2 separate regions of the Homo sapiens genome follow, and region 1 is linked to region 2. The links come from fine-mapping of genetic effects on gene expression. A gene starts in region 2. The other region holds a variant in brackets. All regions are shown on one strand. Distances are between the middles of the regions. Region 1 has its middle 24 kb from the start of ANXA1. Region 2 holds the start of ANXA1 (annexin A1).

Region 1 (16,796 bases), 23 kb after region 2:
ACACAAACACACACTGTGTGTCTCACTCTGTTGCCCAGGCTGTAGTGCAGTGGTGTGATCATAGTTCACCACAAGCACATGTTACCCACACCAGGCATATGTTTAGTTTTTTATAGAGAAGAGATCTTGTTATGTGGCTCACGTGGGTCTTGAACTCCTAGGCTCAGATGATCCTTCCCCCTTGTCCTCCCAAAGTACTGGGATTCCAAGTGTGAGCCACCACACTTGGCCCATTGTACATATTTCAAACTGAAGCCCAGTGAATTTTGGATTTAGCTAAAGCCAGTGATTGCTAAATAAAGACGTTGCCACTTGAATCTAGATCTTTTACCTTCTTTGAGTGAAGGGTTCTTTATGCCAGATCATGATGCCCAGCTTGCCTTTGACATTTGGAGGCATAAAATTATCCAAAATTCTACCTGGAAGGCAAAATTTTGGATTTATAATAAAATCAAATAGAGGCCAAAATATGAGGACTTCAGTGTCTATGAACCCATATACAGCTACATTTTAGTGCTGAAAAATCACCCATGAACTCCTATATGTATAATCCCATAGAACTACAAGTATCCCCTTTGTTTCTCCATTTTGGGAGTGTGTGAGAACCTCAGAACTACACTTTTGCTTCTAACTACTACATCATTACTCAGTTTCCTGTATAATTCTTGAAAAACCAGCTATTCTGGAGTTAGCACTCATAGTGTGTTCATACTTTTCAAATTTTTTTCCTTTTCAAAACTTTTATTCTTCTCAGTAATTTTTCATACCTGACAGTTGAGACAAAGCTAAGTGATGAAATAATGAGACAGTTCAACTTACTCATTGTCTTTATAATGAAATGAATGCAATGCAAAGGCATTGTGTGTGCCTGGTTTTTGTCCATTTATGATCTTTTCTCAGGGTTGATTATTCTTGAACTCTTTTTCATAATTTTCTTTAATATAGTCTCTGAAATTCTTTCAGTTCTTGAATTAGCTTTTATCCTTCAGTTCTTATGTTTAAACCTTTTTTTCATTATTTCTTAGCCTCTATTCACTAGAAGTCATTGACTATAAATAAATGCTTAGATTCCAATTTTTTAAAAGTACTTTGGAAAAATAAATAAGCTGATTCTCTAGGCAACTTATTTTGTATTTCAAACAAATTTACACTCCTTAGAAAATTGCCAGATGTAAGTTATATTGATTACAGAAAATGTAATACAAAATGCTTTTTTCTATCTTCAAAACAAACCAAGCAGAAAAATATTAAAGCATGAATTAAGTCAACTGGATAGATATTAAGACTTACTCTGATCTCACACGTTTTAGAAAGTAATCAAATTCAATACACTTCTAAATACTCTGCCATTCTGTGTCTAAAATGTATTTAAATAATTGTTGACACTATTGGTTGAAATTCACGTCTTATTTATCTTTCTAGAAATTTAAAAAATTTTATAACATAAAATACTTTGCTTACATCAATGATATGAATGTACAATTTAGAGAAAATATGAAAAATTATATTGTAAAAACACTGCTAATTGTGAAGATCAAAACATAATTTATTTGATTTTCAGCTTTCTTAGGCTAATAATCATACATTTCAAATAATTCTTCAAGATGAGAGCTCCCAGAGAAAAAAGAAACTTTATATTTTCTACAGATCTGGACTTAAAAAATGAAATAAATTATTTTTAAAAATAACAACGACAACAAAACCCTAGGAAACACTGTATTTCTTCTTCAGGAAATAAATTTGAGAAATTAAAAAACAACAAATCTAACAAAAATAGTTCATCACTTTCAAATAAGAGGCGATTTGGAAACTTCTAATGGGCCACGGACAGGTTTCTTTTCCTGTGTGCTGAATTTATATTTTAGCACAATTTCAATAAAAAGAGCAACACAATTAAGAAATGTTCCAGGAAATACCTCTTGCCATTTGACACAATACATGGCTGATTCTAGGATGCATGACTCCTCTCTGAAAGCATGGAGGGGACATATGTGGAAACACAGAGAGTATCAATCTGAGAGTACTTTTTGAAAGAATCCCGATTGTGAACCATTACCTCAGGTGTCATAAACACCCAAGGCTGCTTTGTTGAGCAAGAGGTGGAATATCTTCTGGGTACAGAAGCTGGGGCTTGGCTTGCTACAACTGGCTCATCAGGGTGGGGCCATAATAGTCAACCAAGGAAAACACTACGTCACATGGAAAATGCAAACATCAAGCCAGTTGTTGGCCAGAGTTCTGAACATCTTACTGAGAAAGAAATGTCCTGGCTCACTGTGGTGTGTACAGTGTGAATGAAAATGTTCAGCAAGGGAGCTAATTTGCATTGGCACTATGTCAGTTTCATATATTGGGGACAGAATTTTAAATATAGAGGCTACTCTATTCCTTTACTGGTTTGTTTACAGGATTAGGTATACAAAAGAATTCATTCATCCAGTAACTTTACCTGAGTTTGTGTAATGAAACCTTGAATCATCAAGTTTTTTTAAAATTAAACTTAACAAAACTTTCATTGAAAATGAAAATTAAGGCCAGGCGCAGTGGCTCACACCTGTAATCCCAGCATTTAGGGAGGCCAAGGTCACAAGTTTGAGACTAGCCTGGCAACATGGTGAAACCCTGTCTCTACTAAAAGTACAAAAATTAGCTGGGCGTGGTGGCAGGTGCCTGTAATACCAGCTACTCAGAAGGCTGAGGCAGAAGAATCACTTGAACCCAGGAGGTGGAGGTTGCTATGAGTTGAGACCGCACCAATGCACTCCAGAGCCTGGGCGACAGAACAAGGCTCTGTCACAAAAAAAAAAAAAAAAAAAAAAAAAAAACCAAAAAAAACCCAAAAAAAACTAAAAGTAGTAAAAAAAAACAAAAAAAAAACTTTAACAAAAATAAACCTTATAATTCAATTTTACAGAATCAATCATTACAAAGTAAATCTATAGGTTACAGAATAAAACAATGGCATTAGGTGACAATTTGAAGCTAGAATTGATGAAACTGCTGCCAGTGAGTACCCATCTATTTCACCGTGTCATTTTCCTACACTTCTGTACCCTTGAAGTGAAGATAAACTGTTAATTTACACTGTCAGGGTGAGGGATGCCCCCTCTGAAGACATTAGCTGTCAATTTAGGAACAAAAGGAGAGGCAGATTTGGGTTGTTTTATTTATTTATTTATTTATTTATTTATTTTTATGACTCAGCTTCCAAGTTTAACTCTTCCCTTTTGGCATAGTGAATTTGGGGTCCTGAGCTTTTCTTTTCCTTTCACAACAGTAAGGAAAAATTTTTTAAAGATAAAAGTGTGTCCTGAAATCAGACAAGTTTAGGTTTTCTTTTGGAAATGATTCTTTCACCATTTTTCATGTTTTATGATGAAAGTGAAGTTATTTTGGAAAAGAAATACATTATTTTTTGTATTCTTTGAAGTTCTCTGAACGTGTTTCTATATTTTTAAAGGCACCTGATCAAATTTCTCTAAGAGTTTGGCCCATAAGGAAAACAGATTAGTAGAAACCTTATGAAGCTGAAGGAAAACAAGTGAATTATTTATTATTCCACTTTTTCTAATTTCGTTGTATGTTCAGAACCACCACAATGCTTATCGTGTTATTATCAGAAGACTATACGTCATAAAACAGAAATGAAAGGACCGTTCTTATGAAAAACACTGAAGAAAGAGAAGAGGGACGTTAGAAAACATTGCCAAAGATGTGGGAGGGCCAGAAATATTACAAATACTAAAAACGGATGAGGAGAGAAGGTAACAGCATGGGCTTCTGCAGCTGTAGCGTTTAATGCTGGAAACTCCAGGCGCTCCGAAGCCCCACGGCTGAGCCTGTCTCAGCATGTTTCTCTTTTGAGTCTGTGTGCTGGCAAGGCATTTCCTCGGCTGGTTGCTATAGAAATAATTATACTACACAACTTTGAGAAGCAGAAGCAGACGGAAGTTACAGCAGAAACACTGTCATCTTGGTGTTGTTCTAATAGCCTTAGGATTCGAAAATGAGGCAAAATTAAAAACAAAAAGCACCATTATTTAAATTGAAAATTTAGAAATGTGGGTTATTGTTCAAGTATTCAAAGTCAGCACTACAGAACAGTTAAGTGAGTGTTCTTACACCGAAGTCCTCAGAGCCACTTGGCAAATGCTAGAGAAAACAGGAAGTAAGGACCTCTGTCAAGCAGAAGAATGTCTGATTTTAATCAGGAAATTGAGGATAAGTTTATTTTTGAAGGGATGATATCATCCGGTGAATGGCCTCTTTTGTTTGTAGTATATGCTGGAATGTCACCACCTTGGGAAAAAGTATTCAAAAATTCATAGCCTTTTTTTTTTACTAACACCATATTCACTTTGATTCTTTCTTTTAAATTTTATTTCTTGTGAGATTTATCAACTATGTGTGATTGCATATGCATATTTGTATGTGCAGATATAGACATATAGATATGTCTTTCAATTTTCTCTGTTCTCTTCCGTCTATTTTTTGATCTTTCTCGTTCCCGGTACCACAGTATCTTAATTTCTAAAGTTTTGTAATGAATTTTGATGTCTGAAAGGGCAATCCCAACATCCTTTTCTTCATGTCGCCAAGAAGCTAACAATTTTCCATTAGGAAACAGCCAGCCACATTTCCCAGTTTTGGCATGGTAACATACTGAAGACTCCTGTGATAGTAATTGTAGCTTTTTAGTCATTACAAAGTAAAAGATGACAGAGTTAAGAAAGGACTTAAACTGCAAGACCATTCATTAGTTCTACAATGGGTATCAATTTTCATTTGACTCATCTGATGTTGACTACTTAGAATTCCAGCTTTTAAACAAAAGCTAAGTTTAATCTGTCTATCTACCCAAGTTAATCATTCTGTATTAAGTATTCCTGTCTATTTTAGTTTATCTCAAGGATTTCAAATAATTCAACCAATTAACAATCTAGGATAAAGGGATAACTATAATAATATTTGCATTTTGAGAATCAATAATAATTGATTCTCGAAGGTCTACTTCAAGTTTAATAAATGGAATAAATTAAATATATCAAATGGACAATTCCAAAAAACTTTTATTTACATAAAAATTTTAACAACCATTCAAAACTGAATATAGTAAATGTTAAATGAACAAGATAGCTGTTTGGAGAACGTGATTTCTACTAAGAGATAGAGGTCATCGAGAAAGGTTACTGTAAGCCTTAAAACATGAAATAGCACTCACATAGAGAAGGTGCCAAAGGGTATTCCAGAGACGAGAAGCATCATTACCCAAGATAAAGAGACTAGAATATGCATAGTGGACTCCCTGGTTGTAATTCAAATTATAAGTGGATTATTTTTAAAATGTATACAACTGTATGCACAGAAATCTCTGCTGTGTATGCTTGTGGCATTGCAGCTTCCTTCTGTGGGTCTGAGAATTGGTGCAGGTTTTTAAACTGGGTCAAGAAGTAATATTCCGTGGGCATTGATGACATGAGGCTTCCAATTGCTCATCCAGTTTTAATCATCCTTGATTATGTATAGCCAACCACGCTCTTGTTGTCTATCCATCTATTTTTTCTCGATAAACACCTTGGGATATCAGCCATCACCATAGATCTCTAGTGGTTGACTATATTGCACTTGACCCCTGATATTCTGGAATATAATCATTTCCATTGACACTAGGGAGCCCAGTTCTCTAACAGTATTGCCTACTGTCAACTTCGGTCCAGCTATCACTAAGCTTCTCAAATATGCCAATCCCTCCATCAATAGCACATTCCTTATCAGCTTTGTGATGAGAATGTTCTCTGGCCCTTCAATGAACATAATCAGCTGGTAGTCTCTCTGGTGTTACACAATAGAATCATTCTAGCATGCTCACTTCTCTGAGCCTTTTGAGCCCTTCCTCAAAACTCTGCTAAAGCAGTTCTGTCATCTCTGCTTAATTTAATGTGAGCCTTTTTCTTCCCCCTACAGAACTTTTAGTAACCATCCAAGCAGCGTATTAGAACCATTCCCAGGTGCTCTTGTTAGGGAGTTTTCAGTCATGGAAGAATGTTCCCTTGTTGACAAATGTTCCTTTATCAAGCTTCTCTCTCACTATCCCCAGCTCTCACCCCAATCCAGCGCTATCAAGATATACTTCCTGGCATGCTGTCCTGATTCCTTTTGCTGCAAATTAATCACGTCTTGATGTTCTTTTGGAGAGTAATTTTTTCCCTTCCCTGGTTGGCCCATGCTGAGACTTAGATACAGAACTAGAAGACAGGAGAGAAAGTGAAGTCAGATCTTGATAAGGACAAATATCATCGTCAAAGGCATCCATCTCGGTTGAGGTTTTGGTGTGGCCTTCAAGCAAGAGAAAGCTGCTATGTTCCAGCAAAACTAAATAAGCCACTCTTATATGCCCAGGGGTTCAAAGGAATCTGCGAGTTCTATAATTTTGAGCACATCCACCTACAATTCTCTGCACCATCTCTATCAGGGTTCTGACTTAGCATAAAACCTTGCCAAGGCTATTAACTCATCTTTTGTTGTATTTCTACTACTTTTATAGTAAAGTTTATCATCCAGTCTTCCTTTCAATCTGTCTTCTAGCTATAGAAAGCATGGGTTTCTTTAAATGCTGCCCTGGAGTCCTCCAATCTTTCATACCATGCCCCTGGTTAGTAACGGACAAACCTGAGCTTGTCAATTTTCTTCTTCGGCACAATGACACTTAGCAACAACCAACCAATTTCCAAATCTTATAATTAATAAATCCCCCCATAGCTCTGAAATGCATGTGTAGTCTCCTTTCATCTGTATCCCATGCCAACTCACCACTGGCAAAAGTTATGCAATGACAGTGCTAGAGTTTTCAGTTTTTAACAGTTTAATCTCCAACAGTGTGATCCAGTTGTTATCCAGATGGCAAGTGATCTAACTCAGAATCCCTTCCTAAGTGTATGCTTCCTAGGACCACTTCTGAAATAACCTATTTTCAAGTTGCGTTTCTTCATTAGTTTCCTAGGGTTGCTATAAGAAAGTACCACAAACTTGCTGGCATATAACAACAGAAATTTAGTCTCTCACACTTCTGGAGGATAGAAGTTCCAAATTAAGGTCTCGGTAGGGTTGATTTCCTCTGGGTGCTCCAAACGAAATTATGTCCTGTGCTTCTCTCCTGCCTTCTGGTGGTTTGCTGGCAATCTTTGCCATTGCTTGGCTTATAGATGCACCATTCCAATATTTACATCTGGTTTCACATGGCACTCTCCTTTTTGTGTCCTTGTGGTCAGATAACATTCTCCCTGAGTGTCTCTATCTCTGTGTCCAAGTTTCCCTCTTCTTATAATGGCACCATTCATATTGGATTTAGGGCCCACTCTAACATAGTGTCATTATCTCACCCTACCTTAATTACATCTACAATGATTGCATTTCCAAATAAGGTCATATTTACAGGTTAGGACCTTAAGATATATTTTTAAAGGACACAATTCAACCCATAACAGCATTCGAAAGACAAATCTTATGATGAAAATTTGTGTGTAACTTATGTATTAGAGTATATTCCCAAGAAATTACAGAGAAATGGGAATAATAACAGAAGAAGACCAATAAAGGATGCATTATCAAGCAATTTCCAATGAAGTACATCTTTTGTTCAAGCCTGCCATGCATTTCTGGGCACAGTATAGATCTCAACTCTGAATTGGTCAATAGAGGTAAAGTCTTACCTGTGCACCTACCAGTCATTGATTTAGAGCTATGACTGAGGGAATGTAAATTTCCAGGCATATTTAGTTCCCTTTTGTGCAGATAAAGTGGTTGTGACAGCCTGAATTGCAGGTCCCTCACCCAGATTCATAAGTTAAGGTCCTAACCCACAGTACATCAGAATGTGACTTGTTTTGGAGATAGGGCCTTTAAAGAGAAATGGCCTCTCTCCTTGCCATACCACGTGAGAGAGTTTTCTCAGAAAAACCAAACCTGCTGATGCTTTAATCTTACATTTCTGGCTTCTGGACCTTGAGAAAATAAATGTTTATTGTTTAAGACACCCAGTCTTAAAGACACCCCTAGCAAACTAATACAGCAGCCACTGATAATCACAGGGTGCTGTCTCATGGGACTGAGAGCACACTGAGGCAGCTATGAATGTAGTGAAAGAGCCATCAGAGGGAAGAGCACCCATGGTGTCTTCTCTGGCCCTAAGCCTTCATTGCCAGGAAACCATTTGCAGAACACCTG[A/C]TTTCTGTCCTCACAATTTTAGCTTTTGCTCCATTAGACATCCTGTTTTTTCCAGAAAAGGAACCTGAAATTGCCACTCATACTTGGTCAATGTAGGCTGCTCTAAAAAGTTTACCCAGGATAGCTTTTATATAATAGAGTATCAACTATGGACCCGGGAAGATCATTTGGATACATCTTGACGTTTCTCCACCTGCTGATAAAAGTGAATGAGTAAATACAGCAGCTGTAGTAGGATGAGGGCAGGGTACCAAGAGCACAGTTCCTTCAAGGCTGAGGAAATGTGTCCCCCACAGAATGATCAATTTAGACCACCAGGTACAACATTAACCGAGGATAAGGAAAGTCTAGGATACTGGAAGAATAAAAAGAACACTTAGTTGATTGATTACTATTAAAGCCTCTGCTTAGTTTAATATATATTAAATTCTGTTTTCTTAACTGCACACACAGGGATTTCCATCACAGTCCTAAAAAACAAAATGCATAGCCAACTTTGAGAATTGTTGTCTATATGTAAGAAAAAAATGCAGTAAACAATCACACAAGTGGCAGAACCTCTTTGCTTCCATAAAGGACTAATAATAAGACCCATATTTTAGTCTACTTTGTTAAATCTGATTGTACATAATTTTATATTTCCAAATCTAATTAATATAATGACTCATTGAATGACATTCTACCATATAGTAAAATGTTAAAGTTGATCTTACTTTTTTCGCTCCTCATCTCTATTGTTTGTATGATTTTTTTTTTTTTTTTTTTGAGACGGCATCTTGCTCCGTCACACATGCTGGAGTGCAGAGGCACGACCTTGGCTCACTGCAACCTCCGCCTGCTGGGTTCAAGCAATTCTCCTGCCTCAGCCTCCCGAGTAGCTGGGATTACAGGTGCATGCCACCACGCCTGGCTAATTTTTGTATTTTTAGTACAGACTGGGTTTCATCATGTTGGCCAGGCTGGTCTCGAACTCCTGACCTCGTGATCCACCTGCCTTGACCTCCCAAAGTGCTGGGATTACAGGCGTGAGCCACTGTATCCGGCCTGTTTGTATGGTTGTTATCTTTACCTGGGATTATAATTTTACATATTCATTGCCTGCAAAAGATATTTACTATGAATCTTTAACTCCAAAATTAATATACCTAACATCTTTCTTATTATCTAAAAAAATTACAAGAATGATGATCCAGCTTTCAAACTTTTAAGAACAAAACATAGAGATGCAGTTCTTAATAGAAAGAGATACAAAATGGTAAATGTGGTATAGTATTTTTTATTCAAATTAGGAATATTTTATATAAATATATACAAAAATTAGGTGATTATATTTTTATTCTGTCAAATATAAGAATTGATGTGAAATCATTTAGTACTATTTTTAATAATAGAAATTGAAAATGTTGCATGTTACTTTATAAGTGACATGAGAAATTAATGTAAAAGGGGCTTTGGGTTATCTTCAAGAATGAATTTATGTGGGGACATTGTTTATACCCATACAATAGAAAATATCCCAAACACAATTCAACTTTTAATAGAATAATCTTCAACACCTTTCCGGAGCTAAAATAAACTTTTAAATAAATATTGCATGGACATTATATTTTGTATGGGAAACTATTTTTATGTTAGTTTCACAAATGCTTTATTCACAACCAGTGTGAATTAACTTTTAAATCTACAAATTAAAACATCAAAATCTCATGTTATAATACAATAAAGAGACAATTTTATTCCCAGGAAACAAAACTGAGTTAGTATTTAAATCCTAGAAACTAAATATAGACAAAAATATTAACTTTCCAATTCAGCCAATCTCCAATTAACACATATAGGAAAAAGAGTGGGGGGAAGCGGAGGGAGAGCATTAGGACAAATATCTAATGCATGCAGGGCTTAAAAACTAGATGATGGGTTGATAGGTGCAGCAAACCACCATGGCATACGTATACCTATGTAACGAACCTGCACGTTCAGCACATGTATCCTAGAAATTAAAGTAAAATTTTTTTAAAAATCTTAAAACACAATAACTTCATGCTTACAGAACATAGGCTTATTGTGAGGAAAAAAACCCAAAAGTCCATAACTGTTACAAAGTTGGACAAGGTGTGAACTGAAAAGGCAAACATTTGGTGAGCACACAAATCAGCATATATTCTAATATTGTAATATTATCTCATTTAAACCTGTTCTTACTCATGTGTGTGTCATCCTAGTTTTCTCTGACTTACAGCACCTCACCCTTATTCCTCATCCATCCAAGTCTCTGAGTGTCTCCAGAGAAGCTGCAGTATTCAGTGGCTGAGAATAGTGATTCAGAGGTCATACTACTTGCCTTCATTTATCTATGCAACCATATTGATTTAGCCAGGAAATGTTTTAGGTACTGAAAATATAGGAGTGAAAAACAGTCCATACACAGTTAATCCTTGAACAGCATGGGTTTGAACTGCATACGGCCACTTAATACATTAATTTTTTTTCAGTAAAAGTTACATCAAGTGTGCCTGCCTCTCCTGCCTCCCCTTCTACCTGTCTACCTCTTTCTCTGCCACCCCTGAGACAGCAACACTAACCCTTCTTGTTCCTTCTCCTCCTTAGTCTACTCAACCTAAGGATGAGAAGGATGAAGGCCTTTATGATGCTGCACTTCCATTGAGAAGAAATATGTCTTCTCTTCCTTATGATTTTCTTAATAACATTTTTTCTAGCTTACTTTATTGTAAAAATTCAGTATATATACATATAACATACAAACATGTGTCAATCAACAGTTTATGTTATTGGAAAGGCTTCCAGTTAACAGCAGGCTATTTAGCAGTTAGGTTTTTGGAGAGTTAAAAGTTCTACTCAGATTTCTGACTATACAAAGGGTTGGCACTCCGAACCCACATGCTGTTCAAGGGTCAACTGTACCTGTCTTCATTAAGGTGGTTTTTTTATGGTGTAATATACATAAATAAATTGAAAGATCCATAAATAAGTAAATAATTATCTTAAATTTCTGAATCTTTTACTTACTGTACAACCTTGAGTATGCTATTTAGCTAACTAATCTTCAGAATATTTTTTAACCTGTAAAATTGAGATGCTAATATTGAATACAGTTAAGTATATAATATGAATATATATTTGTGAGTGTGTGTGTGTGTGTGTGTGTGTGTATATATATATATAGTCTTTATCCATTTTATGTTGCTGTAATAGAATACCCACAAACCAGGTAATTTATAATGAACAGAATTTGTTTGGTTCATAGTTCTGGAGGCTGGAAAGTCAAGAGCAAGGTGCCAGGATCTGGTGAGGGCTCTCATGCTGCATCATCCCATGGTGGAAGGCGGAAGTGCAAGAGAGCATGAGAGCAAGCAAGAGAGAACCAAACTGGCTTTTATAAATTCCCACTGTTGCAATAATGAGCCCACTCCTGCAATAACGACATTAATTCATTCATGGGGTGGAGCCATCCTGACTTAATCACCTCATAACAGTTCTACCTCTTAATACTGTCACAATGGCAATTAAATGGCAACATGAGTTTCAGAAGAGGCATTCAAATCATTGCCATACACACACACATACACACACACACACTATATATATATATACGTATATATACATATATGTGTGTATATATACGTATATATACATATATGTGTGTATATATACGCATATATACATATATGTGTGTATATATACGCATATATACATATGTGTGTATATATACGCATATATACATATGTGTGTGTATATACGCATATATACATATGTGTGTGTATATACGCATATATACATATGTGTGTGTATATACGCATATATACATATGTGTGTGTGTATATACGTATATATACATATGTGTGTGTATATACGTATATATACATATGTGTGTATATATACGTATATATACATATATGTGTGTATATACGTATATATACGTATATATACATATATGTGTGTATATGTATATATACGTATATATACATATATGTGTGTATATGTATATATACGTATATATACATATATGTGTGTATATGTATATACATATATGTGTGTATATGTATACACATATATGTGTGTATATATATGTATATACACATATGTGTGTGTATATATATGTATATACACATATGTGTGTGTATATATATGTATATACACATATGTGTGTGTATATATGTGTATATACACATATATAGTGTGTATATATGTGTATATACACATGTGTGTGTATATATATGTGTATATACACATATATAGTGTGTATATATGTGTATATACACATATATATGTATGTATATATGTGTATATACACATATATGTGTGTATATATGTGTATATATACATATATATGTGTGTATATATACATATATATGTGTGTATATATATTCTTTCTTGAGATTAAAAATTAGCTTTTATTGAAAAGTAATAATAAATAACAATCAGACTGAGCCAGGAGCCTTAGATAGATATAAATCAAACTTATAAAACTAAACACATACTTCACTCAGGTTTTGTCCTACAAATTGCCTTGGTTGCCATGATGAAATAGAAATAAAATTAGAACATTTCTTGTCCTTTATCATAAATTAAAGATTCTTTCTCCATCTTTTTTGACCTCCAATGTAAAAAGATAATAAAGACTCTCTGATGCACCAAATCATGTTGCCAAAGAGGCCATTATTTTGTATTAACTCTAAAACCTAGAAATCATTGTTTTTTTTAAAAAAGTATTGAAATCTTAATAGTCTGCTGTATGAAATAATGTTAGTTCATATAGTTTACCATTTATTAACGGCAGCTTATGAATAAGTTCAGAGTTCTTTTTTTCTTTTATCTTATTTGATCTTCCAACTAATCTGTAGCCTCTTGTATGAGGGAAAGCAGTTCACACAGGAGCAGCTCATCTTATGAAAGTGTAAAAGGCAGTCTTTGGCTGTTTCCTGACTGTAAACAAAATGCAAAGCTTTATTTCTTTCATATTACCTCATAAGCTTGTTCTGTAGTTAAAATGAGATAATCCATACAGAATTCTCTGCACAGTGCCTAGCATAGAGTAAATGCTCAATAAATGCTGATAACTGATCCCTCTCTATCTCATCTCTCCCTCTATTCTCACTGAGCTTATCATCATTTAGAATATCACTGCTTTTGCTTTGTTATATTTGCAATAGCCTTCTGTTAGGGTTTCCCTTCTCTAATGTTACCTTTCCCCTCTTCCCTATAATTATGTGTTGTCACCAGATTAAATTGTCCTCATGAATAATTCTGAATTATCCAGGTTTCTGATCAAATACCTTTAATGAGTTCACACCGTAATTATTGAAGAATACCACTGTCTAGATGCACTGTCCCTTTCTAATTCAGTTCCTTCTGTTATGCTTTGTAATAACTATTGTATTCCAGATAAAACAACTTGTTCGTTGTTCTTTTAAGTGTCTCAAAATTTATATTCTATGAGAAATGCCCCCACTTACTATTTCACCCCCAACAGAAACAGATGGACACACCAGTCCTCCAAATGTCTTCTTGTAATCTCCTACCTGAAAAGATTTTTTTCTCTTTTCTTATCTTTATTATTACTTTTCTCATAGCCCTTTCTATGTAAAAGGACTTTTTACATCCTAGTTTCTAGCATTGTTCCATGTGTACATGGTGTATTTCTCTTAGGAGAGTCTACTGTCCTGGAAGGAAAAATCTGTATCTGATTCGTATTTTTATTCCTAAAGTGTCCACATTAAATCAATATTTGTTGACTAAATGCAGGAATTAATTTTTCAAATTCTTCAGAAACATTAGAAGTTTCAACACCAAATACAAAAATAAATTACTACAAAACTGTTTTTTTTAACCAGGTAGATGTGACTTAATTTTTGATATGATTGCTGGAAAACAAGGCGATTAACCCTGTTCCAAAATATCTCCCAACCCCTTGTATTCCCCCAGTAGAAAGCCACTAGCAGTTGATATTCCTAGTCTTCCTGATGATAGCTTTATCACGTCTGATTTAAGAGACATGCACTTGCTTGTTTGCTATATTATAGAACACAAAACAGACAATAAATAGTAAAATGACACTGAAGGTGGATGTAGAGTTGTGAAAAAGACACACTTTGCCTACATAGAGCTTTTGAAATAGATGTCTCTGGTTTAATATTTTGCAGCAATTTAATTTCTCAGTAGGATGTGTCATAATCTATGTAACCTGAAGCAGACTGCCAGGAAGTTTCAAGAACCTGTCAGGTGGCAGAATCAGAGGGCACAGCTGACTAGCAATAATCTGAGGGGATACAAAGGCAGGTATGAGTCTATTTGAAGCTGGGAATGTTACAACCAGGAAAGAGAAGATGGAGCTAGAACAATTCATATTCCCTTACTTATGCAAATTCAGAAGCCACTGTTGAGTCAAACCAGGCATGAACAGTCACCCACTACCTTGAAAAAAATTCCGGAGAAGTTAAGGAAACAATTATGTTAAGTAAGGAAGAGAGAGTCACTAAAGCAAACTCAAAAGGGAAACAACCCAAGTCAAAGCAGGAGAAATATTGGTGGTTGCAAAGTAGCAAAAGAAACAAATATACAGGGTCCATATGACCTTGTGTTAGACACTGTATTGCTCCATCCCATTTGTATTCTTTTTTATTTTACACATAAAGGCCATCAGCATACCTTTATAAATTCTTAGAATTATGACATATAATTTAAGTTGCCCAAATACCTCAGATCAGATTGATATGAGACAATTGGGAAATTGATTAAGTAGTATATTATTTTTATTGCTAAGTCATGACAGCAACCACCACTTGACTGGTAGAAAGTAATGCCCATGAAAGTGCATGGTCACTTAAAAAGCATCTCATATGTACTCGAAGTCAGTTTTCGGCTACAATAAGGATATGGGGCCTGTAGCCAGTACTGTGCTAGAGTGGCTTCCTAGCAGCTCAGCAGATCCAGTTGTGCACATTTCTTCCCAAATCCCCAAATCCAAGCTCAGTGATTGTTGGTAACTTGAAATTGGCTGTGGTAGAAAACATGACAAGCTAGGGCTTTTCCCTAACCTTGGTGAGGGGTTGTTAAATATTACCAACATGCCACTATGTCTGTCCTGGTGTTTCTTTCCACCAGGTCTCATTTGTGGTTTAATTCTACTATTCATGAAGACCTTTGAGAAAGCCTTACCATTGCCACTCATCATCATGAGTTCAATAGTTGTGCCAATAGTATTGTTTCCAGATGCTTTCGTAGCTTCCAGTCTTGGAGTTGCCAAAATATTCCTGGATTCCATGCAGAGATAGGGAAAACAGTTTACCTCAACTCCTCATTTTTACACGTGGGCTCTGAAATCTCTTTATATTCATCCCCTGGTTTCTCACTGTATCTTACTGACTTCTCCATGTTGTCTCAAAATGAATCCAATGAACCATGTAAGAGATAGACATTATTCCAACTTTGATTTGTTTTACTACTTAAGGTCCTCCTGCCAACCTCCAAAATATGTTTCTTCTTCCCCAAGAAAGCATTCACATATATCAGTAAATGAAAACAATGTCGAATGTATGAGCCTATGGGTAAACAAGAAGAGAAGAAATGCTGTCTGATAAGAGGGGCGCATGGAGTCCAGCTTAGCCAAAAATCAACCATGCCATTTAACTGTTTTAATTGTATAATTTGCTAGATGTTTCTGTTTTTCCTCCTTTCTCAAATTGACTCTACACAATTTTTTACCCTGCTGTGTATTCTGGAGAATTGATATTTAGGGGCTACCTTGATGGCTTCCTTTCTCTCTAACCTCCTGTTGAGTTTGGCCAAAGGAAGGCACAAGCAGGAGATTTGGAGATTTTAGTTGAATGGCCTTCTCCATATAGCTGCTCTCTCTGGGCTATGATAACTGTTCTTTCCCTGGTCTTTCCGGCCTGTGGTTAGTAATAGCTCCTTGCTAGCACTAGTCCTTGGACACAGTACTGTTCTTCATTGTTTTTGGAAAAACCCCATCCCATACCTTTAAGAAATTCTCTCTATAGAAATCTCATCAATTATCCTGTTTCAGTATGTCATTCCTTATTCTGTTGGAATCCTGGATGATACTTCAATTAACCTAAGTCATAGCCCATGAAGCTCAATATTCTTTTCACTAAAGGTATTTCTATTTAGTATATTTATGAATCATACTTATGGTGCTTCAACTATGAAAAAAATTTTAAAATCATTCTGCCAAAGAAGGCTGTTTATTTGACCCTAAATATTGTACATCTACCCTACCTGCAATTTCATTAGATCTTTTCAGAGTGTTTCAATTTTTTTTTTTTTTTCTTGAGATGGAACCTCGCTCTGTCGCCGAGGCTGGAGTGCAGTGGCGCGATCTTGGCTCACCGCCAGCTCCATCTCCTGGGTTCACGCCATTCTCCTGCCTCAGCCTCCCGAGTAGCTGGGACTACAGGCGACCGCCACCACGCCTGGCTAATTTTGTTGTATTTTTAGTAGAGACGGGGTTTCACCGTGTTAGCCAGGATGGTCTTTCTAAATGAATAACTCCTCTTGAAGTAAGTATTTGAAGAGAAAATCAAGGATAACGGAGG
Region 2 (16,796 bases):
CATTTCATTCGAGTGAGAAAGGAAGAGACAATTAACTTTTCCTGGCCCTCAGTGTTGCAGTGTTTGATACTAGTTGCAACTCTATATGTGAACAGAGCTTTTAATTTCAGCATGGAATTTCTGCTAGAAATGAGCCAGTAATATCTGCTGTAACAATAGAGATTCCACTGATGTGAACACAATTTCCTCAGTGTTAAGTAAATAATTACATCTTCGTTTGGCAAAGAAATGTTTTTATCTTCAAAATGAAACAGATTCTTTCCATTGCACATGTCTGTTTTTTGACAGTCATTCAAATAGCCATTCTGAAATGTCCAGGAGGGAACTGTTTTGAGGAAACACGTTACCTTTAACCATTATGGCCTTATGCAAGGCAGCGACATCCGAGGATGGATTGAAGGTAGGATAGGGGCTCACCGCTGATCCGGGACCACCTTTGGATGACTTCACAGTTTGCTAAGAATGAGAGAGAAATAAATTAATGGCCATTTACTTATATTCGTTTTTATTTCAATATTGTAATCATAATTTTATTATCACTCTACTTACAACATATTCCTGCTCTTCATTTTCAATAAACCAGGCCTGCTTGAGGAATTCTGATACCATTGCCATTTTTGAAAAAGTGTCTGGAAAGAAAACAGTTAGATGCTTTTACAAAACAAATGCACCACACACAACCTCTCCTTCCTCACCTCTTACATACATAAGAGTTAGCATTAGAGAGTAGCCTTGCGCTTACTTTCCAGGATCAATTACACTTAGGAGCATAACAAAATGTAAGACGTAATTTTTTTTAAAGGAAGCTTTTATACTTAAAATGAAACCATACCCTCCTCTCTGAAATTGAACTCTTTCTTGGCATATTCAGTTCTAAATTTTAGAGATCAGACAACTACTACAAGTAAGCACACAGGCTGAAGAGAGGAGTTTGTGGTTCACTACATTGTTCTAAATTTGTAGACCACCCACCATATGCCAAGCACTAAGAGTACAAAAACATTGAAATATCATCTTAAGTACCCTCAGGACTTAAAGCTAGTGTGTGCTCTCCATAGGAAAACATAAGGGCTAAAGAAACTTCTTAGAGTAGGCCCTGGCTGACCCAAGCCTCTCTTGAAATGAGTCAAGATTAACCTGGCAGAAAAGTTAAAGAAGAAGCTTGTCATATTTGGGAAGCAGAAGAAAGTTTGCTGGAGCGAGAAATGTTGGCAGAAGCTGAAACAAGAAGCTTCAATGTGTCCACAAAGCTTTGGGAAAACATTAATGGGTTTCTTTTTGTTTGTTTGTTTTTTTAAAGCAGCATGGTTTCATTTATGTTTCCGAAAGACCATTCATCCTTTATCATGGAGAATGGCTAAGAGATAGACAAGATGGAGGATTAGAATACTATTTAGTAGACCATTAGACCATCTATGTGGAATTAATGAGAGCCTGTACAAAAGTAATGGCTAGATGAAAAGCTTAATGATTGCTTTTTTTTTTTTTTTTTTTTTTGAGATGGAGTCTTTCTCTGTCGCCCAGGCTGGAGTGCAGTGGTGAAATCTCGACTCACTGCAACCTCCGTCTCCTGGGTTCAAGCAATTCTCCTGCCTCAGCCTCCTGAGTAGCTGGGATTACAGGCACCAGCCACCACGCCCGGCTAATTTTTGTATTTTTAGTAGAGACAGGTTTTCACCATGTTGGCTAGGCTGATTTTGAACTCATGACCCCAAGTGATCTGCCCGCCTCGGCCTCCCAAAGTGCTGGAATTACAGGTGTGAGCTACCACTCCCAGCCAATGATTACATTTATAAGGTAAAATAACTTGTGCCAATCTGTACAAGTGAATTCAGATTTAAAATTTTAATTGTAAAAAGATATCCAGGTGATATTTCTCCCTGAATAATTTAGTTTCCTTTTCTATTTCTTGATATAAAAGTACTCAGCATTGAAGTAATTGCTATCTTCACATTTCTTCCTATTTGAGCTGTCTAAATAGTAGTCCTACATATTTTCCCACCCAACACAAAAAACCCAGAAAAGAATTATTTTATACTGGATTTTTTTGTTGTAGCAGGAAGCCTAGAGGTGCAATTGTAACATGCATGTTCTTTTGGCAAACTCTATCTTAAAGGAAATTTCTTGAATTGCTATCATGACTTGGCAATATTTTTATTTAATGAGACATATATTTTTAAGATCTTAAGTATATTGAAAATTAATGTGTTCTCTGTTTTGGCCACACACACACAAAATGCCATCACAGATCCTTTTAGTCTGGGGATGTTTTTCAGAGGCCTTGCTCAAGGTCTACACTGATCTGTCTATCTACACCATTCTGTTTCACCCCTCTAGAGACTACTCTCATGAATGTTTGTGAGAGAGGTTGGGAGGACAATCTTGGCAGTTTTAAATTCTTGATATGAAGATAAATGACTCATGAGGCATAAACTGATTCCATAAACTGATTCCTCAACAGCATGTTCAGACAAACTCTTTCCATTTTCACCTGCTAAAAAGTAACTGGAGTTGCAAGTAATAACACTGAATGCATGAAGAAAATAATATCCAAAGCAGAAATCATCCCCACTTAATTCGCATGGGATTGCTCTTATTACTATTCTGTCATCTGTGAGAAGAACCAATACTTTTTCCATTCATTTAAAGCAGCCTGTTTCCTAAATATAATTGATAGACTTAAAATTGCTTCCTGATAAAGTAACAACCCGCAATTTTGCACAAGGTTTTAGTTCCCATTACAGTCTAGTTTCATGCAATTGCGGTTGCCACATGGAGTTTCATATTCCACCTTCTTAATTGGCACACCCAATACTTTAAAAGCAATTCTAGCAGCTTCAGGCACTCAAAATTTCCATTTTCATCATTTCATCCAAGGCTTTGATAAGGAAGAATCATCAAAATGAGTGTTAAAATTCATCACTTGGCAAAGTACTACTCCATCACTTATAAAAACATGTTTTTATTATTTATTTATTTTATTTATTTATTTATTTATTTATATTATTTATTATTATTATTTATTTATTATTATTATTATTATTATTCCATTCTTTTCAATTAGCAAATAAAAACTTCAAAAGAAAGCAAAAGAAAGACTAAAGATATTGTCCAGTCTAATATTAAAGGTGTCTCTGACAACTTCAAAATAAACGTTATAAAAACTTTACTGTACTGTTTTTTTTTTACTTCTAAAAAATACTTGAATAATGTCCATTTAAAAAAAAAGCCAGAGAAAGCCCAGGAAAAGGTATATTAATTACATAACACAAGATAACAAAAATAAGTTGTTTAAGTCACTTATTTGAAAGAGAGAGCATCCCTAGAGGAGACAGCTTTGTGATTTGTATCTTCTAAGTTCCTACATTCTAGCCTGAAGTATTTGGATAGACTAAAAGCATAATCTAGGAAAGAAAAGCAACCAATAGAGAATTTTCTTCAAGAAATCAATTAGAGAAAAACGGAATCTGAATTCAGCCAAATTCACCACCAGCTCTTAGCAAAGATTAAAGACAGGAGCATCAAGGCAGGATATAAGAAATTGCTCTAAAGGAAACAGATTTTATCACATACAGCTGGTTAAGGGCTCAAAGCCAACTGCACGTATTAACTGAACTTCTGAATAATTATAATACAACTAACAAATACCAAATATATATTTTTTTATATATTGGCCAAATTCTATCCTTAAGCCGTTCTGACTCTTCAATACCTACACTCTGCATGAAAACCTGCCTAAGCCAATGAGTTCATGAAAGGTTTTCTTTTTTCTATCTTTTTGTTTGTAGTGTATAAAGCTTGCAATAGATTTTAAAGAGCCTGTTCTATCAACTTATAGATTTCAACTAACTCAATACAGATTTCAACTAACCAAAGATAAGCTCTAAAACTAAGTTTATTTCAGTACTTAGCATGAGCTCATTGACGGTGAAATTGGCCATTTATACATAGGCAAATCTATAAGGAAATTAACAATATTTCACATTTCTTCTAATTAATGGTCTTTTTGTGAACATGCACTGCCTACTAATGTCAGCTTATCTATGATTTGAATGTATAGCTTTCTAAAGCGTAGCAATTTTTTTGCATATTTATGTGTCCTAAGAGAGTCCCCCCGCTTCATTTTTCCATCTCTCAGCCTCATGAAAGGCTACCTCTATCTAGAATTTGTGACAGAGGAAGCTGAGTTTTGTGGTTGATTGTATCTTCCTGGTTACAATCTAGAACTATCAGAGTTTTGCAATGATAGTAACAGCAATGACTAACCCTTGCTTGGAATAATAGCCTTTAATCATTATCCTCAGTTTCTATCTGGGAAAACTGAGTGCTATTTTCAAGCAGTCTTCCTGCTAGTAGTGGCAAGAATGGAGACATAAATCCATCCCTTTTGATTCCAAAGTGTTATATATTTTGGCTGTGCATGGTGGCTCACACCTGCAATCCCAGCAATTTAGGAGGCCAAGGTGGGCAGATTACTTGAGGCCAGGAGTTCAAGACCAGCCTGGCCAGCATGGCGAAACCCCGTCTCTACCAAAAGTACAAAAATCAGCCAGGCATGGTGGTGTGCACCTGTAGTCCCATCTACTCAGAAGGCTGAGGCAGGAGAATCACTTGAACCCAGGAAGAGGCGGAGGCTGCAGTGAGCCGAGATTGTACCACTACACTCCATCCTGGGCGACATAACAAGACTCTGTCGGGAAGAAAGAAAGAAAAAGAAAAGAAAAGAAAAAAGAAAAGAAAGAGAAGGGAGGGAGGGAATTAGTGACCAAAAAGAAAATGACATGATCAGTGTTCTTTTAATCACTCACACCTGAGAATCAAATTCATTAACAGTCAACTTGCGCAGACCGTAGCAGGTTTCACCCCAGCCTTAGGGAGTTTATTTTTAAATGCACGGCCTTGTGCATAGTTTTTCCTCGAATATGTATTTCACAAGTCCTTCCCACACCTTCCCTGGTGAGAGAAAGCAATTAAGACTACACAATGGCATGACTTACAGAAAGCAATTTATGAAAGGTAGCCTCACTAATGTTTTGCTTCCAGGCTTTTCGATAGGGTGTTCTTCTTGCCTGGAATGCTTGTTCCTCCTCCACATTCACTTCCCTTTGCCTAACTAATTGCTACTTCTAAGTGACTCATCAGCATTGATCTCATCACGTTCTTCAGAAACCCTTCATTAGTTCCTCAGCACTGGATTCGGTGACCTTCCATGCTCTCCCAAAGCATCCTGACTTCACCCCTACACCAGCCCCACCTTTCTGTATTATCACTTTCCATTGGCTTGTTTATATTCCCCAGGAGCAGGCCATGAGGCCCGTGCTAACATACAAATAATAATATTCATTATGTATGTACTTCCAATCCCTAGCAAAATGCCTGGAATTTAGGATGTTAATAAGTATTATTGAATGAATATCATGTATCATTGCTAATATTTTAAAAAACATATCTACACTAATTTAATGAACATTTTCTACCCACAACTATAGGATATAAAATACAAATTGAAGTATACTGGTTCTTGATTATCTGGCGATCTGACCTCAAGAAAAACATTTAGCTTCTCCAGAGGGTCTTCGTTTATAAAATAAGAATGTTGAAGTAATTATCATCTAAGATCCATTTACAGCTCTGAAGTGCCAATCTTAAATATTACTTCAAGTAGATGAAGATGAAGAAAATTAGCATAATGAAGGAAGGCATTATATAAATTGGATTGTTCTGAGCTTCCTGATGAAATTCTGTCCAATTTTAAAGGAAAAGGAAATAGTTGACTTCAAAAAACTGTTTATAGTTTATCATTGAAAAATAATAGGTCTGCTGGTTTACCTCTGATTTGAAATGTCGTAAATTAATAGGTCTAGAGAGAGCTAACGTCATATTCAGAAATCAACCTTTGCAGACCTTCTGGTTGAAAAAGTATTTAATAAGCATGAAACTCTGGCTGGTTCCTTAATAATATTATTATTAACTATTTTGTCAACATCTGTTAAATGTTGGCTATGTGCTGGATGTGGTTGAGCCTGGAGCTAGGGTGTTACTGTCACTTTTGGGGAAGAGGCCATTTCAGAATTATGAAACCAACATTTTACCACATTTGAGTCATTTGCAATGTGCATTCTCTTACAGCTACCAAAATACTCCTGTGGAAAGAGGGCAACATTGCTTTCTCAAAGTTTTTACAATCTTTTAGATATAACCAAGGCAAGAAAAATTCCATCCTTGTTAATTAGCTAGCAGTGAACATAAGAAATCAGAACATTTAATAAATATTTAAAATGAACGAACAGAAAAATTCTTGAAGGAACATGTTTAAGAAAAAAATAGCCAGATACATGATTTGTAATCTCACTTTTACAAATATATCCAACACTAGTAAATACTCTTCTTTAGTTTTGCTTTGTGCTTTTCTAAGGAGTTTTATGGCCATTAGCTCATGCAACAATCAAGTGGAATAGCTGTTGGAGGGCCTCACTGACATTCCCCTAGGATAATGTATCTGACACTACCCAGAAAGTATTTCCCTTCTTTTTAGGTTTTCCAGCCAGCACTTGAAAAGACTGTATATGACACAGAGCCTACAAGAAAAGGAATGTGGCCACACCCTCTTTAAATGAAAAAAGTAATAAGCGGACCTTCTTATTTTAAATAGCATAAGCAAATATAACATATATTTTTAAATGTTTATTACAAAGAGCATGATTAGCACTTTGAGGTCTGAATCTATCTTGTTTTCCTTACAAAAGAAGAAAATAAATTATGAAAGTCCTACTATTTTGAAACAGTTCCCTGCAGCCCACTCCTATCACTTTTGTTCTTGCCCCCAAAAAGCAGCCCCCATCACGATTTCTCTGTAAAACACACAGCTCTTGGGAAGAAATATTTCAAGGGGAAGGAAAGGAAAAACACATTCTTTTAAGGCTACCAGAGGGAAAGCACATTCTTCCCTTCTTTCTCATGGTAACTTACCAAGAGTACAATGAGCCAGTATTAAGCAAACTTATCTTATTTTTACTTGTATTTGTTAACTAAGTAGAACAAAAATATTGTAATTTGTGATTCCTAAAATATAAATATCCAATGTAATTCTACAGAAAGATTTATGAATGACTTATCATGTTAAATGCAACTAACCATAAATCCTGTAGAAGCAGTAACATTTAACATAGTGATGAGAAAAGTTTTCAAAACAACCAAAACTAACTAAAAGGAAAACCAAGACTTACCTTTATCTCTACCTTCTTGCAAAGAACTAAAGAGAAATTCTTCTCTGAAGATTTCACACTGGCAGTGGAGACTTGGGCTTCTGATTTTATAGGATTTTAAAGGAAGCCACACCTAGCAACCAGAAGTTAGTAATTGGCTGCCTTCTGTTTGAAGTACATGGCTCAGCTATGTCCAAAAACAAAGTGAAACAAGTCTTGCAAAACTACTCACTAAACCAATTCAACTGGCATTACAAAGGAAAAGAAATGGAAGGGCTGATTTTTCCTCCCTCTTTATTTTGCACTTTTATTTCCAGATGGGATATTTATTTTGCACTTTTATTTTCAGAGTATACATCTGCCCCAATCCTAATACCAGTGATTGGCACACTTTTGTAGTTAAATAGGTTGTAGACTAAAAAGTATGTTACCTTCAAAACTAAACAAACCAACAAACAAAATATTACATTTGAATTCCACCTCCATCACTTATTATTCTGTGACTTTAGGGACATACTTAATTTTTCTGAACCTGTTTTTACTTTTGTTTTGTTGTCTTTTTCCCCCGCTTTTTGTGGAGAATGGGGTCTCGTTATATTGCCCAGGCAGGTCTCAAACTCCTGGGCTCAGGCTATCCTCCTGCCTCTGTCTCCCTAAGAGTTGGAATCACAGGCGTGAGCCACCATGCCTAGCTGTTTTTACTTTTGTATATAGGAGCATTATCTAAGTTGTCTACCCACTAGAATTCTTGTGACAATGGAGAAATAACATATATTTGTAAATTTTAACATTACACAGTGCCGAATAATTTTCTATTTATATTTTTCTTGCCTTAAAAAATAAACGACTTTTGTTCCTAGATATAGCTTGTTGTTATAAATAAGAAATATAGAAGTAATAAAGTTCCAGATTGGCTCAAAATTTTGAACAAAGGTAATGCCAAAAATTTGATCATTATGACATTCAATAAAAGCATTGACATCAGAAGGCCTATCTACATTAATTCTTTTAAATAGAGTCAGTTACATAGAACTATATATATAAACTGTAATATAGATCAGTTATATATACATTTTGATACACATCTTTGACATTGTAGACTAGTTGAACACCAAAACAAGGAACTAGACCTATAAAATGAAAGGATTAATGGAGCAGCAACTATTACAGAACACATTCCATAAGAAATTTCCCACCCAATGGAGGAAAATTGGTTCTGGTAACTTCCATAGTGGTTCATTTTCATTCTTCTTTAAACCCTACAAAGTATTATATGATGTTTCCATTAAAGTGCACAGGTGTAAAATCTCACAGCATTATGGCTCAATTTATGCTGCATTTAGTGGTTTGTTCTTTTTCCTCTTTTCCTCATAGATATTTCACATAAAAAACATGAAGTTTAGGAAGTTAATGAAAATACTTTCTAAAGATTGGCAGTATTTTATAATACATTCTAAGTGCTCGATGCCAATATCAATGAAGTCAACATATCCTGAAGTAGGATGATCATCTAATCTAAATATTTAAGAAAATGTCAATATATGTTTTTACTATCATATGTGTAAGTTGAAAATTAATTAGTTACCTGCTAACAAGTTAAGTTAATTGATATTATTGCAAATTGATCTTGACAGATGTAGACTAACTTTCTAATACCATATTTATGTCATCAGGTGAGAAGGAATAAGATGATTATACAAAATCTGGTTTTCTTTTTTTCTTTAATTTGCGTTTGTATTCCTAACTCTGGTAATGGAACTATTGGAACATTCCTGCACAGTGATGCTCTTGTGAAATGAAGAAAAAATTCCACTTACTTTTTATAAAATATAACAACCTAGAAAACATGTATAGTCTCATTTTGCTTTGTTGCTGCTATTACCAGTGCCATAAACTGAATGGAATTATTTTATATGTTTGGATTTGTAATACATAGGCAAACCTAAAATAGCAACAATAAATATGATAATTGTAGCAGAATTAAGAAAAAAAAAGTGAAAAGAATGTTTTTCCAAAATTAACTTCCAGCTGTAACACTAAAGGCAAGTGAAACTCCCAAACATAACACAAAAAGAAAGCCACTAATCATGTAGGTATATTGCTGTGAATAATCTGTCAGAATCTTTTTCTCCGCATAATAATAATGTCGAGTAGATTTATGGAAATAAAAGAACAAGTAAAATATGTTATCATTAACAGTGAGGGGATAATCATGGGTTAAATGCTTTCTGTGGGTGAAATGCCACATACTCCAGAGAAATGACTCACCACTCTTGCTGTTTCTAGAAGATGATGATTCATCGGCTCCACTTACTTTACAAACAGAGAAAATAAAGAAAGAGAAGGAAAGAAAAAAGACAGTTAAAATCAATCTCTATATGTTACGTTTTTCACAGCATGTTTATTTTCACTCATTTGGTTTAGAATCTGATAGTGAAGAGGAAACAAAACAAAACAAGGAGAGGAAATATGGAGTCTCTCACATACATCTCATTGTGCATAAGACTCTTGCAAAATATCTGATCTTAGTAAGCTGTCCCCTCATCCTTTACATTTAACTCTATCTAAGCATTACTTGTTATATGGAAGAAAGAGTATATTCTGAATGATCAAGAACAGCATTTCACAGATATTCCAAAATCTCCCCACAGCTTCCTCATACCCCCTATCCACAGCCAACAAAAATCATTATTTTAGTGTGTGTTTCTCATGTGTCCCCAGGTCAAAGCATTTTGAGGGCTAACATTCTAAATGTTTTCCCTTTGCCTCTAAACATGGCAAATAATTATCACACACACACTGAGTTATTGAGATTATTATTATTATTATTCCTCAGTTATTCACATGAATTAAAGACAGAATTTTTTTTCAAATTTTACTCTTTCAGGTTAATGAAGTAGTCATGTGGGTAGCTAGAGCCAAAGGGAGGTACCTTTGTTGGACTTCACTTAGGGAAAAAGATCTTACCTCCCTGCCTCTCTATATTTCCTTTTGTGGGTGGAAAATCTTAGAGAAGATAAAAACTCAAATTTGGTGGTGGCTTAGTATCTATTACTGTGTGACTTAGGAAAAGTCAGCGAATGACTTGGTGATTCAACTAGTATACTTCCAACATCAGGATCATGCTAGGATTAGTAATTTTGTATTGCACAAGTTATTTTGTTTAATCCCTGAGTATAGTATCCATATCCCTCTCTATATTATTCGAAAGTAAGAGAATAAGACCTTGTCACATTCGCTATAATAACAAATTTTACTTCAATAATTTTCAAGAAGTTTTGCAGAAGGAAAATGAAGATATGTGTTAAGGTCAAAAGGTCAAACTCTGCTTTCTAGGTTCCAGCTGTTTTAAAATAGTCTGGCAGTTTCTTACAAAGATAAACAGAGTCTTACAATGCAATCCAGCAATTGTGCTCCTAGATATTTACCCAAATGAGTTAGGAAACATGTTTACACAAAAACCTGCACATGTATGCTTATAGCAGTTTATTCATAATTACCAGAAATTGGAAGCAGCTGAGATATTTTTCAAGAGGTAAGTGAATACATGGACTATAGTACGTTTATGTAATGGACTATTACTCAATGATAAAAAGAAATGCTTTTAAACCAGGAAAAGAAATGAAGGAATCATAAATGAGTATCGCTAAGTAAAGGAAGACAGTATGAAAAGGCTATGTCTGTTTCATTCCAATGAGATGCATTCTGGAGAAGGCAAACTATAGAGAAAGTAAAAAGATCAATGGTTGCCAGGAGTTGGTGGCAGGGAGGAGTAATAAATAAGAGACTTTTAGGGAAGTGGGCTGGGCATGGTGGCTCACACCTGTAATCCCAGCACTTTGGGAGGCCGAGGCGGCGGATCATCAGGTCAGGAGTTCAAGACCAGCCTGACCAACATGATGAAACCCCATCTACTAAAATACAAAAAAAAATTAGCTGGGCGTGGTGGTGCACGCCTGTGGTCCCAGCTACTCAGAAGGCTGAGGCAGGAGAATCACTTGAACCTGGGAAGCAGAGGTTAAAGTGAGCCAAGATTGCCCCATTGTATTCCAGCCTAGGCAACAGAGCGAGACTATGTCTCAAAAAAAAAAAAAAAAAAAAGAGATTTTTAGGGAAGTGAAACTATTCTGTATGATACTGTAATGGTGTATGCATACATTATGGATTTGGCAAAACACATAGAAATGTATAACATGAAGAGTAGGCCCTAATGTAAACTATGGCAATTAGCTAATAATAATGTATCAATATTGGTTCACCAATATAACAAATGGACCACATCAATCCAAAATATTAGTAACAGGGGAAACTAAGAGCAGCGGGAAATTGAGTATATGAGAATTCTCTGTACTTTCTGCTCAATTTTTCTGTAAACCTAAAATTTCTCTAAAAACTAGAGTCTATTATGAAAAAAAGGAACTTCATTTGATTATATACTTTCTAAGATATACCAGGACCATATAATTTCTAATATAATAATTCAAAAATTCTTATGTAATCAGAACACAAAAAATACAGCAAGTCTTCACATAATCATTGCCAACTCCATGGATTTATGACACGAACCAAAGATTAATATCCTTAAATTTAATAATGACTTTTTTTCAATTTCTATTTTAACTCAATAGGTTTAAAAAGTGATTTAAAACAATTCTTTAAACTAGCATAGTTAAACAAAAACTGGATCTTTATACTATCTTAAAAAATAAAAAAACATGGATCTGGATGGATCTGGAATTAAAATGGGAGTAAATATATAAAACAAACAATAAACTTTACAAGATATTCTGTAAATATCTTGTAGCTAAATTTGTAATGAAAGTTTTCCAGACCAAGCCACAATAAATGTTTGCTTTGCATTGGTTGGGGTGATTTTGGTTAACTTTATCATAAATAGATTATTATCCAATAGAAAAATGAAATTTTCTTTCAAAGAGAAACTTGATAAATCCTAAATCTCATTTTCTCATTTACAAGTCAAATATGGTTATACTTTGTTAAAAGTAACTTGCAAAAGATCACTATTCAGGATAATCTATTCTGAGAATAACATTTATAATCTCTGTGGTGGGAGACTAATCTGTGGCTTAAAACCTGTTATTATAAAAGAAATGAGAGGTGTTTTTAATATAGGCAAATAAAAATCCTCAAGTGGAAAAAATAAGCAAAATCAGTAGATTCTTACAAAAACTTCATATTTCCTTACATGCACTAACAAAGTGTTACTATCTACAGTGTACCAGGAGCTCTTATCAATTGTAAAGCAAGCAATCCAAACAACAAAAATGGATGAAACCTGAGTACAGTCAAATGCCTCCGAGTCAGCAGATATGCAAATCCAAATTGCCAAACAAACAGTAAAAGTTGTTCAAATTTACACTGGTGAGGGAAATACTGTTTAAAGAAATGACAGTATATGGATATATACCCATCAGGGTGGTGATGACCTCAAATTTTCTGTAACACCTTTACCAGCAATAAATGGTATTAGAAAAGGATACACTCATATATTGCTGGTGCTTGTTTGCTTGTTGGTTTGAAAGTCATTTGGCAGCAACTATTAAAATAAAAAACACACAGAATAAGATAATTAAGAGGGGCAGAAAGCAAGCCAAGATAATGTAATCCTGATGACGCAACTGCAGGTGAAAGTGTCAGGAAGAAAGCTGTGAAAAACATTGCAAAAGGATACAAAATGGTCACTTAGAAAGAGGCTCCAAAAGGAAGTCATTTAGAAATGGCTCTTGTACTTGGAAATTAAGAAAGAGGTGGTGGCCTTAAGGATAAGGGGTTTTGGAAACACAGTGGAGAGAAATTGGTTTGAGAAGACCATAGGAGCTGAGGATATGGAGTTAAGTGTAGGCAACTCTTAGACATACACGCTTTCACTAAATGGTGGAAAACCGAAAGAGAGTAACAAGATATTAATTGTGAGGTAGCATTGGGAAATCTGAACGTGTTCTCAGGTAGACCATGAGGAGCTATAGAAGAAGAGTGAAGCCACAGGAAACAAACAAACTAACAAAAAACAGCATAGTTGATGAAATAAGCTTCCAGAATATTTGGGAGAACAGGTGAACCAGTACAAGGAAAGAGTTACTAGCCTTTGAGATGAGGGCCATTCCTTGCACTGAGGATCTCCTCATATCTTCCTTTCCTGGTTGAAGATTTAATAGGAAGAAAGAGATGAACCCCTAGTCCTCTAGTGGGACAAATACAGTAATGCTGAGGGGCAGAGACTAAGAAACAGCACTGACAAGAATTTTCGAAGGGAAGATGATGTGAAGACATAGGGAGAAGACAGCCATCCACAGCCAAGGAGAGAGGCCTGGGGCAGATATTTCCCGCATGGCCTCAAAAGGAACCAACACTGCTAACTCCCTGATAATGGACTTGTAGCTTCCAGAACTGTGAGGAAATAAATTTCTGTTAATTAAGCCACCCGATCTGTGTAGAGTTGGGTCTACACACTCGTGTAGACTTAAGGGAGGCAATGGATGGGCCAGAATGTCTCTTTCATGAAGCAGCAGTGCACCTACAAATCTAAAGATCACCAAAAAGTCCCTTGATGTGCACCTCCAAGAACATGCAGAATTGGTTACAGTTGAAGTGAAAAGACACCTATTTTGCACTAACCATAGTTTAAAGGTAACAATGCTTAAATTTTGCAACAACACATCTTTTTTTTTCTACATGCATAATGATAGCAAGGGATATAAGACAAATTTTAATAACCAAATAATTTAAAATAAAATGTCTTGCAATGTCGTAATTGTACAGAAATATTAGAAGTGACACTTGTGTAGCTAGTTAGTATACAAAAATCATCCTCTTAACTTTTCAAGTATTTGTATTTTTTATATATCTATACAATTATGGAAGGCCACAAAACTGCCATAAAAAAGGGTAAAAATATAACATAAGAAGGGGGATAACCTGCACACTTTACATAACTATGATCATCTTTAAGCTCAAAGCCAAACATGCAAATTCTAACATTTTCCCTAAATCTGATACATAACCAGGAGTCCTTTGGAGAGACTAAAAATAAGCAAAATGTGAAAAAGAAACAATTCTAAATTCCACATGTAATAGCCAGATTCAGAAGAACTCCAAGAAATTTAAATTCAGCTAATGGGTTTACAGTGGTCAATCCAGAGAATTAAAGATTCTTAGGCTCCATCAAAAACTCCTTTTCCTATTTGAAACTGTATCCTGTTGCCTGGTTAAGGTTTGGCATTTTTAAAGAGGCTGTGGCAGGTGCTTATAATATGCACATTGTAGTTTTATTTCCATCTGGGTGAACAAGAAGTCAGCTGCCTGGAGCTGAGACTTATTTGCTTATGGACACAGGTAAATTTGCTTAAAGTGTTCTAAATGTAAAGAGAATAAGGCTTAGTTGGGTGAAGGGGGAGCACCAAAAACTCACTGGGATTAGAAATGATGGGTTAGGCAAATATTTTCATAGTATTTGATATTTGCAATATGGAAATGAAATGCAGATCAGAACTGCCTCATGGACTTCTTAAAATACAGTGTTTCCTAAACTTCCTTTAAACTGAAACATCTAAGTTACATTTCTATGCAGCTTGAATGTACTAAATTTAATATAACTATGAGATAGTTTTTAAAACTCTATAGACAGTGTTTTGTTAAAAATAAGTACTGCATTGAGGAGAACTATTGTATAGTGAATGTCACTAACAGAAAAAAAGTGTTTCTGGGAAAATTAATGAAGAACCCATTTTGCAAACAAAGTTGCTTTTGCAGAAGAAGTTTCAAGAGTTCAGGATATCTAACTGTGGTCTGATGAATCATGACTTTAGAATTTGCCCGGAAGTAGGGAATTAGGGGAGAAAGATTGTCAGGGGATTGCATAATCCTCCCTGAAGCTAAGTAATGGGAAGATAGTACCATTTCTTTTCTTGAAATACCTGTATATTTTTAAACAGGCAGGTCAACTTTAACTTGGCAGATGCTTTAAATTGAAATATGAGATCTTTAGAAAAAGAAGAAAACAAAAGAGGTGTTTTCAAATTACTCATTTCACTTCAAAAAAAAAATGGTAGAAAAACCACATTTTTCCCAAAGGAGGGGACACTTAGAATTGCTTACACTACTTGTCTTGAAGATCTTGCGTTGCTTAATAAATTAAAGTTATTTCAGCTATTGAGACATTATTTCTACTGGTCTTACAGAGGCTCAGAAGACTTTCAAACTGATTTCTGGGGCAAGGCTTTCTCTGAGTTTGAGCTCTCTCTGTTGAAATCCTATTCACATTTTTAAGACCCATCTCAAAAGCCAGTCCTCCACAGTATAATTTCAAATCTTTATAAAAAGGAGTGGTGCTTCTCTAAAAAGCATACTGCACACTGGTTGGATCTTGAATACTAAGTCATTTTACTTGACTTTGTAGTGTACTTGTTTTTATATTGTATCCCTCCCCTCCTAGACTGTTTCTTTACTACTCATTCATATTCATACCTGATCTTTTTCACAGGGCTTTGCACATTGTAGGTGCACACACAAAATACTCTACATTTATTCAATTATTTAGCAAAGTGATTCAACCGTAGCCAGTAACTATGTGTTAGCTCTCCAAAAAAAAAAAAATATTAGCAATCACACATAATAAGTGCTATTCCAGGCACTAGGGATTCTGTGACTGAACAAGACAAAAAGTCTACTACCCTCACAAAACTTACATTCTAGTGATATAAGTTGTTGTTGCTTATGTAAAAAAAAAAAAAAAAAAAAAAGCTTAATCTTCATCTTATAGGATTTCCATAGTCTACTCATAAGTAGTGCAGATTTTGAAACAGTACTTTTGCCTTAAGCGGTAATTGCAGCCAACAGATCATAAATAGAAGAGTGTCTCATCTTCTTACAAGCATAGCCAATATCTTTAATTAAAAAAAAAAAAAAAAAAAAAGCCAGGCGCAGTGGCTCACGCCTGTAATCCCAGCACTTTGGGAGGCTGAGGTGGGCTGATCACGAGGTCGGGAGATGGAGACCATCCTGGCTAACACGGTGAAACCCCGTCTCTACTGAAAAGACAAAAAATTAGCCGGGCGTAGTGGCGGGCGCCTGTAGTCCCAGCTACTTGGGAGGCTGAGGCAGGAGAATGGCGTGAACCCAGGAGGCGGAGCTTGCAGTGAGCTGAGATCCCGCCACTGCACTCCAGCCTGGGAGACAGAGCGAGACTCCGTCTCAAAAAAAAAGAAAAAAGAAAAAAAAAAGCAGAATGGACTGATAACATTAAAGGCAGTCATGATTAGACCTTTGAAGGCATCCAAATTTAATATCTGCCCCTCGTGGCCATGTTGTGATGGGATTACACGCATCCATTAATATTGTGGGCCCCAAAGGCCTGTGAAAAAGGGGGCCTTGGAAACGCCGTTATCAGTGTTGTGTTTAAGAGTGAAAGTCAAATTGCGGAGGAATAACTCATCCTACCTGGGCCAATGAAACCAGGGGCACAGAGCAGGGACATCAGAAGATAATTCAACTAAATCCAGCTGTAGTAGCTGTCAACAGCAGAGGACAGGGCGCCAGACTCCACAATGTATGTAAAAGGCTGGGAGGGGGCAG

What was found. PIP is the estimated chance that this variant, and not a neighbour inherited with it, causes the effect.
Region 1: its variant is the best candidate, but not a certain one, in a credible set for the expression of ANXA1 in whole blood (INTERVAL, PIP 0.59).

The regions. Positions count from the first base shown.
Region 1 is chr9:73,119,543-73,136,338 of GRCh38, reverse strand. No RefSeq gene overlaps it. Among named protein-coding and RNA genes, the nearest start is that of ANXA1, 24 kb to the left of the region's middle. RefSeq lists an enhancer at 3,548-3,967. The variant A/C (reference allele first, on the strand shown) is at 8,224.
Region 2 is chr9:73,142,355-73,159,150 of GRCh38, reverse strand. ANXA1 (annexin A1) reads right to left here and starts at 7,286. Exons shown (of 13, transcript NM_000700.3): 1 at 7,227-7,286; 2 at 550-629; 3 at 348-456. The coding sequence starts at 615. RefSeq lists a silencer at 5,004-5,298 and cis regulatory regions at 9,328-9,578, 14,903-15,207.